Linked DNA regions of Homo sapiens: region 2 is linked to region 1. Evidence: fine-mapped expression QTL. A gene starts in region 1. The other region holds a variant in brackets. All regions are shown on one strand. Distances are between the middles of the regions.

The links. PIP is the estimated chance that this variant, and not a neighbour inherited with it, causes the effect.
Region 2: its variant is fine-mapped to the expression of ZNF470-DT in whole blood (TOPMed, PIP above 0.99). The same link has a PIP of 0.9 or more in caudate.

What each region holds. Positions count from the first base shown.
Region 1 is chr19:56,564,922-56,570,291 of GRCh38, forward strand. It overlaps ZNF470-DT (ZNF470 divergent transcript), which reads right to left and starts at 3,100. Exons shown (of 2, transcript XM_047439806.1): 1 at 2,152-3,100. The coding sequence starts at 3,100. The coding sequence ends at 2,162. ZNF470 (zinc finger protein 470) reads left to right here and starts at 2,547. Exons shown (of 6, transcript NM_001001668.4): 1 at 2,547-3,117; 2 at 3,837-3,962; 3 at 5,359-5,370. RefSeq lists enhancers at 2,227-2,276, 2,287-2,496, 2,877-2,986.
Region 2 is chr19:56,537,232-56,542,601 of GRCh38, forward strand. It overlaps ZFP28 (ZFP28 zinc finger protein), which reads left to right and starts at 1,717. Exons shown (of 8, transcript NM_020828.2): 1 at 1,717-1,995; 2 at 2,394-2,485. The coding sequence starts at 1,788. ZFP28-DT (ZFP28 divergent transcript) reads right to left here and starts at 1,503. Exons shown (of 3, transcript NR_183967.1): 1 at 1,194-1,503; 2 at 420-506. The variant T/C (reference allele first, on the strand shown) is at 2,794.

The DNA.
Region 1 (5,370 bases):
AAATTCTCAGTCATTATTCAAATATTTTCTCTCCTTTCTCTCTTCCCCTCCTGGTATTCCAGTTACGCATATATTTCACCTTCTGTAATTGTCCCATGGTTCTTGGATATTCTGTTCTTTTTCTTTTTTCATTCTTTTTTTTTCCTCTTTGTATTTCAGTTTGGGAAATTTCTATTAACATATCTTCAAGCTCACCCATTCATTTCTCAGAGTGTCTTAGTCTGAGGGGCTCACTAAAGGTAATCTTCATGTCTGTTACAATGGTTTTCAATTGCTAGGATTTCCTTTTGATTCCTTCTTACAGTTTGCATCTCTCTGCTTACATTACCCATCTGTTCTTGCATGTTGTCTACTTTTTCCAAGATGCTTCTCCTTCTGTGGGCTTCCCTAAGAACTCCTTCTTAAATAGAGTCTGTGCCTTGCAGTTTTCTCTGTTGTAATCTACTGTTATTGACCAGAGCCCCATTAGTGTGGCAGTGAGGTACAGTGGGGAGGGAAGCATTCTATAATCTTATTATTAAATACTATTTTTCTAGTGGGCTTGAGGCCTTGGACTGTGATCTTCAGAAGCACTTCTTAGCCTTTCAAAAATCCTGCCTTACTGAGACAGACAGGCTATAGAGGGACTGGAGCTGGCCAATTGCCTCTCCCCAAGGTCCAACAAGACTCTAGTAAGTAGTTTTTCTTGGAGTGCAGGTGTTTATTATGGAAAATGTGGTGCTTACTTTTCTCCTCCCCTTGCCCAAAAACCTGAGATTTTTCCCCATTCTTCACTGAGAGAATTTGATAGGGTTTCTGGAGGTAAAATTCACGAAAGTGTGGGGGCCCATCTAAGATTGGGCCCCTAGGAGTTTTTAACTCACAAGTTAGCCCACACTAAGCCTCCAGCAATTCATCAAAATTATAAAAAATAAAAGTTTTTACCAGTTTATAACTCCAGTGGCTTCTGCTTCAAGTAAGCTAATCTTGGCTGTAATTTTATGTATTTTTCTTTCTCGGGATTTTGGGGTGTCAGTTACCTTTCTATCTTCAGTTCTCTGATGGATCTAAGAAAAGTTGATTTTCAGTTTGTTGAATGATTTTGTTGTTGTGAAGATGGGAATGAAGGCTTCCGAGCTCTTTATATGCCAGAGCTAAAATGAGAATATTATCATTTTCATCCAACTCAAATAACCACAAACGTTACAAGCTCTAAGATGATATTTGCTGTTTCATAGTTAAAGTATCTTCACAGCTAGACTTGGCTTTATTATGTTGTTTATGATGTCTGACATAAATTGGATCCAGGAGAGTCCAGTCTAGATGTCACTGTGTGGCCTTGGGTGATTGAGTGTGACTGGGAGGGTGAGTTAGTTTCTGGTGAGCCAGTATCTATGATGCTGTATCTTGGTCAGCTGGGGCTGCTATAACAAAATATCATAGACTAAGTGACTTGACTAAGAGACTTTATTTTTCACAATTCTGGAGGCTGGGAAGTTAAAGTGCTGGCACATTCAGTTCTTGGTGAGGGCCCCGTTGGCTTGCAAATGGGTTACATCCTGCTGTGTCCTCACATGGCCTTTGCTTGGTGGTTGTGTAAACATGGAGACCCCTCCTTCCTCTTTTTTAATAAGTGCACTGACCCCATCATAAGGGTATCACCCTTATGACCTAATCTAAAACCAGTTACCTCCCCAAAGTCCCACCTCCTAACGTCATCACACTAGGGGTTAGGGTTTCACCATAGTAATTTTGGGAGGACATATTCAGCCTATAACATGTTGTGTCATGGTGAGACTGGCAATGCTAGATTTCGTGATTTCCTAAAAAATAAAATAAAAATAAAAAACTAAGCACCTACTATGTGCTGTTTTAGTCACTGAGAATATAACCCTGAACAGGACGGAAGCTGTGTGCCTTCTTGGAACCCTCCTTCCAGCAGGGAGAGATAAAATGGGGTGGGGGGAGGTGAGGGGCGTACCGTATATCAGAGAGCAGTAACTAGTAGGCATGAAATAAAACAGGTTCCACACGCGCACCATCAGAAAGTCACAAGTGTGCAAAGCAGACAAATCCCAATCTCCTCACTTTTCTATCGCGTAGGCCCCGCCCGCGCCCCAAGCCCCGCCCTGTCATGGTTTTCCTCTCCAGAGGGTAGCCGCTACGCCTTACCGACTGCGTTTCAGTGCTGTCCCACTGCTCCTGCACACCCCACGCCTGCGACCCTACCCACCACGGACAGGCGCTCCTGCGAGCTGGAAGCCAGTTCTCTGCGTCCTGAGCCTGGCAGCTGCATCTGAACACTCGGAGCCTGGCGATGGCTTCCAGAAACCCCTGCGCCGTGGGTCGCTTCAGTGAAGGGGCCTGTACTTCGGCGACCCAGACTCCGGGCTGAGAGGCCTCCTAATCCAACCAGGAGGACCAGGAGAGGCCCAAAAGGGGACACAGGGCAGTGACCGCCAGGCTTGGAGAGGAGCCGCTCCTGGCAAAGCCAGCGCCCTATTTCTGAACGCCGCCTCCGTTCCGGACTACACTTCCCAGGGGCTATTGCAGCGGAGGACACGCCCACTTCCGGAAAGGACCCAAAGCCGGGCGAGTGCACGTCCCGCCGGTTGCTGAGGAGAAGGGAGGTCTGGGCGGGGCAGCGGCCGAGGCTGGACTGGGGCGCGGCGGGGGCGGTGTCCTGGTTCCTGTGTGGGCGGCGGGCGTGAGCGTGCGCGTGTGGCCTGGTGGCTGTGAGTGCCCATACGTGGTGAGCGTGCGGTGCTGTGCTGAGGAGGGGCGAGCGCGCGCGGGGATGGCGGCCCGGTGTGTGACTGTCCGGTGCGTGGCCGCGAATCTGCGCCTGCGTGCATGGCCCGGCGGCGTGCGGAAGGCGGTGTGTGTTGGAATGAGTGAAGCACTTTAAGTGGCCAAGAGCAGGAAACCCGGCCGGAGGAGGCTTACCCCGTTCTCCCCTGTATCGACTGCGTAGAGCCCAGTGTGGGCAAAGTCCTAGAGCCCGGGGAAGTTGCCCGGGCGGGGCAGCCTCGGCTGAAGCATTTCCTGTCAGCCCTATCTGGAAGGGGCAGAGCCCAGGACAGGGCTCCATGTCCACAGGACGGCGAGGAGCGAAGACCATGGGGACTGAGTACACAGGTAAGAGTGACAGATGACGGATGTGGCTGCCGGAGTGGACATTGAGGTTTTGGGTGCTGTCTTTCGGGGTTCAGGTGCTGGAGGAGGATGTCCCCCGTTTCTAAGGCTAGTGGACCTGGAAGTCGAAAGATTTGGAGGGTCACCTTGGGTCAGAGTGGAGCTGGGTTTAGTTAGGGAGGGACCTTGACTTGGCCAGAGACACCTAACCAGATAACCTGACTCAGGTCCTTGGTATATCACTAAGGGCCCATGGGAGAGAACACTACCCGTAATATTACCCATTATAGCATTACTTCTGGGTACTCTGCTGCTGTTGAAGGAATAGCTCAGCATTTAGATTTTTACCCGTCAGAGCCTTGTCCCATCTATCACTGTAGGATTTGGGAAGAAGGCGAGATTCACAGCTTCACCCAGAAATGCCGAGGCATTCCAGCCTTTCTATGGCTTAATCACGTTCTAGTCAATAACGGAAGATATCCCCATTCCTTGGGCTTCTCTCCCTCCCCTCTGGCCTCCCACTCCAATAAAGAGAAAGGGGGAGGAAGGGCTATTTTTAGCCATATTGTTCTGTGCTTGTTTAGTTTCCTGCATGCTATAGTAATAGCTAATGTTTAATGAGTGTTTATTATGTGCCAGACACAGTTCTAAGACCTTTTGGGAGTATCAGCACCAAACTTCACAACATTATGAAGTAGGAACTACTTACCTCTTTTTTACAGATGAAGACACAGAAGCATAGAGAGGATAAGTAATCACTAGCAAGTGGAAGAACCGGGATTCAGATCCAGAACAGGCTGACTCCAGAGTCACTGGCTGTCATGTAGTTTCCTCAACTACTGCCTCAGGTAGGTTTCTTAGCCACTTTTGACAATTAAAGAAACTGACTCTGAAAGGGTTAAATAACTAAATAGTTCATATGCCAGAACCTCCACTGAGCAGGTTTGGGGTTTTTTTCTTAAAAAGTTTATGACTCTAAGTTCTTAGGTAAAATGGAGATGGTAATATTATATACCTCACAGTACTGTCATAAGGATTAAATGACCTCATACATGTAAAGCACTTGGTATAGTCCCTGCCATGTAATGTGTTCATTTTTATCATCATTATGATAATCCTTTGAGAAGGCAGTGGAATTTAGATGAAAGAAACTAGAATTAATTCAGATACTTTATCCTCTTCCTTCCTAATTAAGGAAACATGGCTCAGTGGAGTCAAGGGACTGCTTCAACACTGTAGTTTGTCACAAAACAAAATGAGATCCTAGGCCTCATGAGGATTTTTTCATTTGGTTGTCTGCAAGTCACATGGACTCTGTTGTAACGAAAGGAATGCCTCTCTCTGGAAAAGATGGAATTCTCCATGGAATTTGTCTTATAGAATGTTCACAAATCCTGGCCAACTGCACAGAGGACTTATTTTCTGTTATTTTCTGGTATATGAGCAAATAACTTCTGTGATAGAGTCAGCCAGACCTAGGTTGGTGACTAGGTTATTTACAAATTTGTGTGACTTGTGGAAAAGACTTGACTTCCCAGAGCTTTCTTGTGTAAAATGGTGACAATATACCCGATTCTGTTTGAAGATTTTGGAGATTTAAAGACAGTATTAATATATGCAGCACAGACATGGTGGCTCATGCTTGTAATCCCAGCACTGTGGGAAGCCAAGGCAGGAGGATTGCTTGAGGCCAGGAGGTTGACCAGATACCTAACTCCAGGAGGTTGACACCTCCTGGCCTCAAGCAATATAGTGAGCAATTGGGCAATATAGTGAGACCCCCATCTCTATCAAAAGTAAAAAAACTAGCTGGGCATGGTGGCACATGCCTGTAATCTTAGCTACTTAGGAGGCCTAAGCAGGAGGATCCCTTGAGCCCAGAGTTTGAAGATACAGTGAGCTATGATCACGTCACTGTACTCCAACCTGGGCAACAGAGTGAGTCCCTGTCTTAGAAAAAAAAAATGTACACACACACAGGCTAGTATTAATAAATCTGTTGTTAATGAATTGGTGGCTGATGGGGAGAGGGGGTCAAGAGATATTATGCTCATCCTGAAAACCCAGAGCAGAGGGGAACCCCAGCTATATATTTCAAGTCTCCCAAAGAGCATCAGGACTGTGGGGTGGGGGAGTTGGAGTGAGGACTGTGAGTGAGGACAGAAGAAGCTGAAGGGAAGAAAGCATTTTCAGACTTTGATTATTAGTGCTACTTGGTTTCTCACTACTTCTTTTTCTCCCCAGCTCTACAATCCC
Region 2 (5,370 bases), 28 kb before region 1:
TAGCCTCCAGTGGAATGTTGAGTTGGCCACGATCCCTTTGCCAGCTCTCTACAGCTGTTCTACCTGTTGACATCCTGTGTCATACCCAAGCAGGAAGAAGGTTGTGTGAGATGACAAAAGGCCAGAGTTACATGCCAGCTGTGTCTCTTTCCACACATCCACCAAACCCCCAGCAAATGTGTACTTAAAATTCATTGGTTACAGAGCCACTACTCCTTACAAGGAGACTGGGGAGGTGAGTATTATAAGCTGGGCAGATGGCCACTTGAAGAGCATCAATGTTCTGCTGTGGAAGGAGTGCAAAATAGACACCAGAGAGACCATTAGCAGTGTCTGCCACAGCTATTACATGGCTAGGTCCACCTGACTGAAACTAAGCCTTTTCTATGAGACTGAAGTGCTTTGAGAGAAATGCTGACCTTGTCCTTTCTGCAGCTTGCGGCTTTCAGTCACCCTTGGATTCAGAGATAGAAGTCATCTTAATTCCATCACTGAGGCCAGGAGACCTGAAAGAAATCAATTCAAGAGTAAGGAGACCAGGCGTGCAGTGTGACTGGGCGTGCAGAGGTCAGTGCATCTGTGATGACTGGTGTAACAGCATCACTGCCTGTGAGCCAGCAAGGCCCTTGGCTCCCAGGATGAAGCTCTCCAGTTCTGATAAGGCCCCTGGGGGAGAGACCGGTCCTAAACATGTTCAAGAATAAATCCATCAGCTAACTTCAGACCGTGATTCACACAGGAAGGGAACTTTAAGAGGTCGCCAGGGCTGGTATTTTTGAGACGTTAGGCAGCCCTCTCTGAGGCGATGACAAGTGAATGGCATAAAGGAGCCAGCCCAGACGAAAATTTGGGGTTAGACTATTTCGACCCAGGACGTGCAAATACATAGGTTACAAAATGGAAAATGGTATTTTGGAGGATGGGAGGCCCGTGTAGCCAGAGATAATGGGAGAAGGTGAGGGGGCACCCAAAACAATCCCACAAGCTCTCTACATCCCCCTTCCTAGCCCACACACATCACCCATCAGAGTGATCCTCCGGACTCCGGAGGCCCCCAAGATTGCCTTTCCCTTCCCGGTCGGCAGTGACGCTCCCGCAAGGAGCTGACGCCCAGGCCCTTAGCACCTGTCACAGCCAAGCACCCTTTTACTCCGGCCCTGCGGTCCCACCCCTCGCCGCAAGCCCCGCCTCACCCGGTCTGCCGCTGCGCCTGCGCGACTCCCAGAAGCCTTTGGGGGGTGGGTGTGTAGTCAGAGCGGCCTCTGCTTCCGGCCACACCCAGGCCCAGCGTTGGCCACCACTTATGCGGCGGCTGCGGTCCAGGGACAAGTGAGAGCGACCCGCAGAGGGCAGGACGGACGGGCGTTGCATAGGCCCGGGGCCAAACCGTATCTTGCAACCTGAGCTCCGAGGGCCGCCGCATCCGTCCCTGCTTGGGACTACGCTTCCCAGCGGGCATTGCGCCGAGGCCACGCCCGGTTCCGGCGGCGCTGCCTGCGCACTGGAAGTGGGAAGCGCCGGGCTTCTCTAGGCTGAGGGGCGGGGCGGGGCGGGGCGGGGCGGGGCGGGGCGGGGCGGGGCGGGGCGGGGCGGGGCGGGGCAGCGGGGAGGGGTGGGGAGGGGCGGGGCGCGGCCGGGGGCGGGGCGGCTCCGCGGCGCGGCCCAGTGGATGCCGGGCCATGGGGGAGCGCGCGCGGGGCTGTTCGCTGGGCGTGGCGGGCGGGTGTGGCCAGGGGTGTGGGTCTGTGAGGGACCGGTCGGAAGGGCGTCGCGCGGCCTCGGGTGACATGCGGGGGGCGGCGAGCGCGAGTGTCCGCGAGCCGACGCCGCTCCCGGGTAGAGGCGCCCCCCGCACAAAGCCCCGGGCGGGCCGAGGCCCGACTGTAGGGACTCCAGCCACCTTGGCCCTCCCTGCCCGGGGAAGGCCGCGCTCAAGGAATGGCCTCGCATCCAAAGGCCAGCGAGGAGCGGCCCCTACGGGGCCTGGGCACAGAGGTGAGAGTGACAGGTGTTTGGGGCCGAGCGGACAGGGACGAATTCATCTCGGGATGAGATCTGGGAGGGGGTTGGGCTCTCGGGGACCAGTTGCTGGAGAACTGTGCCCCTGGTCTTTGAAGCTGGTGGAGTGGGAGAATCTGAAGATTTGGAAGCTCAACTGATTCAGAGCAGCAAGCCGCGGTAAAAGGGTGTTGACTTTCCCAGGGTGACTCTAACTAGACGCTTTTCCTGTTTTCGTGCTCCCAGGGAGGAAAAAAACCTATCTCCACGTTGTGGCAGTCCCTAGGCAGGGTAATGATCTGATCCCACCTTTTCATGCAGGAAGGGACGTTTCTAGGCTGGTGATTTGGGACTGTGGTGTAGACCTGGTCTCTAGCTACTCCTTTCTCTTTCAGCTCTGCCTTCCAGGGACACTGCTCTTCCCCAGGAGAGAAACAAGAAGCTGGAGGCTGTGGGGACAGGAATTGAACCTAAAGCCATGTCCCAGGTGAGTTGGCATTTCATCTCTTGTCTCTGAAATGCAGTCTTGCTTTTCGGGACTTAATGTTGCTTATTTTCTTGAAAGTTTTCAGTTTAAGAGACCTGTTTGGGCGCGGGTTTCTATTTCTTCACGTTCTAGTGAAGTGATGGGCTACGGGGAAAAGTTTAAACTGCCCGGGGCCTCGATGCCTGCTTCTTCTTCATCCCAATCAGCCTTCATTCTTGATTGATGAAATGATTCAGCCTCTCCCTTGTACCGCTTTTCTCAGAGGGACTCTGATGGAGGAATTGTGCCCCTTGAGGAACACGGCAGAC[T/C]CTTCTGCTATACATGGTTTGTTTGGTGACCACTTTGTGCCAGCCACTGAGCAAACCAATAGCTAAGCCCTAGTCCCTGCTCTGGAGCTCACAGCCTGTTGACCCAATGTCAAGGAAACAAGCAAGATTCTAGAATGTGATCATCCTTGGGCCAAGTATTATGAGCGAGGACTACAAGGCGCTCCTGGCTTCCAGCCTCCTGTAGCGGAAGGGTAGGCCTATTTACCAAGGAGGTGATTTTTGAGCCTTGCCTTGAAGGGAGAGAAGATGTTTGGGAGGCACAGTAAAGAAAGACAACATTTTAGGGAGAGGAGGCGCAATATGAAAGGCTTTTCCACTTGATTTTGTGGCTTTAAAACATGCCAGTAAATAGTTGTGTTTGTTTCGGTTGGCTTCTCCTATAAATATCATAGCTAGCTCATTAATAGATGAACCATTTCACTTCCACTGAGGCCTCAAAAAATATATGTACAGATGAACCAGCTTCCAGTTGTCCTACCCAAACTGCTCTTGAGTGGGTTACTGTGATCTTCACATTACCAGATGCAGTGCTCAATTCTTAGTCTTTTTTGACTATCATTGGTATTTGAAATAGCTCAGAGGCTGGCAAACTTGTGCTGGATGAGGCCACAGCAGAAAATATGTTAGGCTTTGAAAGTCCTGCTGCATCTACTCCTTTCTGCTCTTATAGAGCTAAAGTAGCCAAAGACAATATGTAAATGAATGGATGGGCTGTGTTCCAGTAAAACTTCAGTTACAAAACAGGTGGCTACCTATCCCTCAAATAGCTCATCCCTGTCCTTCAATAGGCCCCCTTTTTTCCCTTGGCTACTGGGATCTCACACTCATCTGACTTTCATCTTCCTGACTGCTCAGTTTTTGCCACAGTTCTTACCTCCGTGACTTGAACAGAGTGTGCCTCAGCACTCTGCTCATGGCCCTTTCTTTTTTTGTCTGCATGCTGTCTCCTGGGGATAGTAGCCTGTTCCTTGTCTGTACAACCTACCCACATGGTGGCTCCTCCCAGATTCACATTGTGAGCCCAAACCTCTCCTCTGAGCCGCCGGCCTGTGTATCCTGCTCCACTCCTCTGCCTGAGTGTCTGATGGGTAACTCAAGACAGCCTGTCCAGACCCGAAGTCCTGAGAGTCTCCCATAAACCAGCTCCTCCCACAGTTTGAGTCTTAGTCAGTGGCCGTTTCATCCTCTCAGTTACTCAGTCCGGAAGCCTTGTCATGATTGGCTCATTTCTTGCCTTTTCCTTCCATATTTGGTCCTGATGCAAATCCTGTCAGTTCTATTTGCAAATTATGTGCAGAATCTGGCAGTTTTCATCACATCTATCACCAGCAGCAGGTCCAAGTCCTCCTTTTACTGTGGGCTTCTTGACTGTGCTTCTGTGACCTCCTGCTTCTGCTCACGCTCCCCACAGCCCCTTCCCGATGAGCAGCCAGAGGGGTCTATTCAAACATGTCACCTTGTGTCACGCTGTGCTCAGGACCCTCCAGTGGTTTCTCTGAATAAAAGCCAAAACTCTTCCTGTTACTGACCAGGCCCTACATGACCTGGCTCCTTGTTACCCCTGACATCTACATCACTCTCTTCTTTCTGAAAAATCGCCTTCTCATTTTCCTGCTCACCCTGTCTAGAATTTCAGAGCCTCCTACCTGTTCTTCACATCCCTCTTCCCTGCTTTGCTTTTTTCTTTTAGTACTTTTCTTTTGAGACAGAGTTTTGCTCTGTCACTCAGGCTGGAGTACAGTGGCGTGATCTCGGCTCACTGCAACCTCCGCCTCCTGAGTTGAAATGATTCTCCTTCCTCAGCCTCCCGAGTAGCCACCACACCTGGCTAATTTTTTTTTTTTTTTTTTTTTTTTTTTTTTTTAGAGACAGGGTTTCACCATGTTGGCCAGGCTGGTCTCGATTTCCTGACCTCAAGTGATCCGCCCACCTCAGCCTCCCAAAGTGCTGGGATTACAGCCATGAGCCACTGTGCCTGGCCCTCGTAGTACTTTTCAACATACTATATACAGAAATCCCACGTATACCAAAATTTGCACTTATTCATCAGCCATGTGGAGCCTGCAGATATGAGAAGTCAGCCCTCAGTGGACACAGGTTTTCCATACCACAAATAATCTTTTTTGAGACAAGGTCTCACTCTGTCACCCAGGCTGGAGTGCAGTGGTGCCATCACGGCTCACTGCAGCCTTGACCTCCCCAGGCTCAAGCAGTGCTCCCATCTCAGCCTCCGAAGTAGCTGGAATTACAGGCATGTGCCACCATGCCCAGCTAATTTTTGTATTTTTTGTAGAGATGGGGTTTTGCCATGTTTCCCAGGCTGGTCTCGAACTCCTGGCCTCAGGCAACCGCCCGCCTTGGGCTACCAAATTGCTGCGATTAGAGGTGTGATTCCCCGCGCCCAGACAATAATTGTATTTTCAGTCTGCATTTGGTTGAAAAAATTTGCATATAGGTGGACCCTTGCAGCCCAGATCCATGTTGTTCGAAGGTCAAATGTATTTTACTTAATTTATCTCAGTTTCTCTTGTCTCATTTCCTTACTTCATAGGCAAG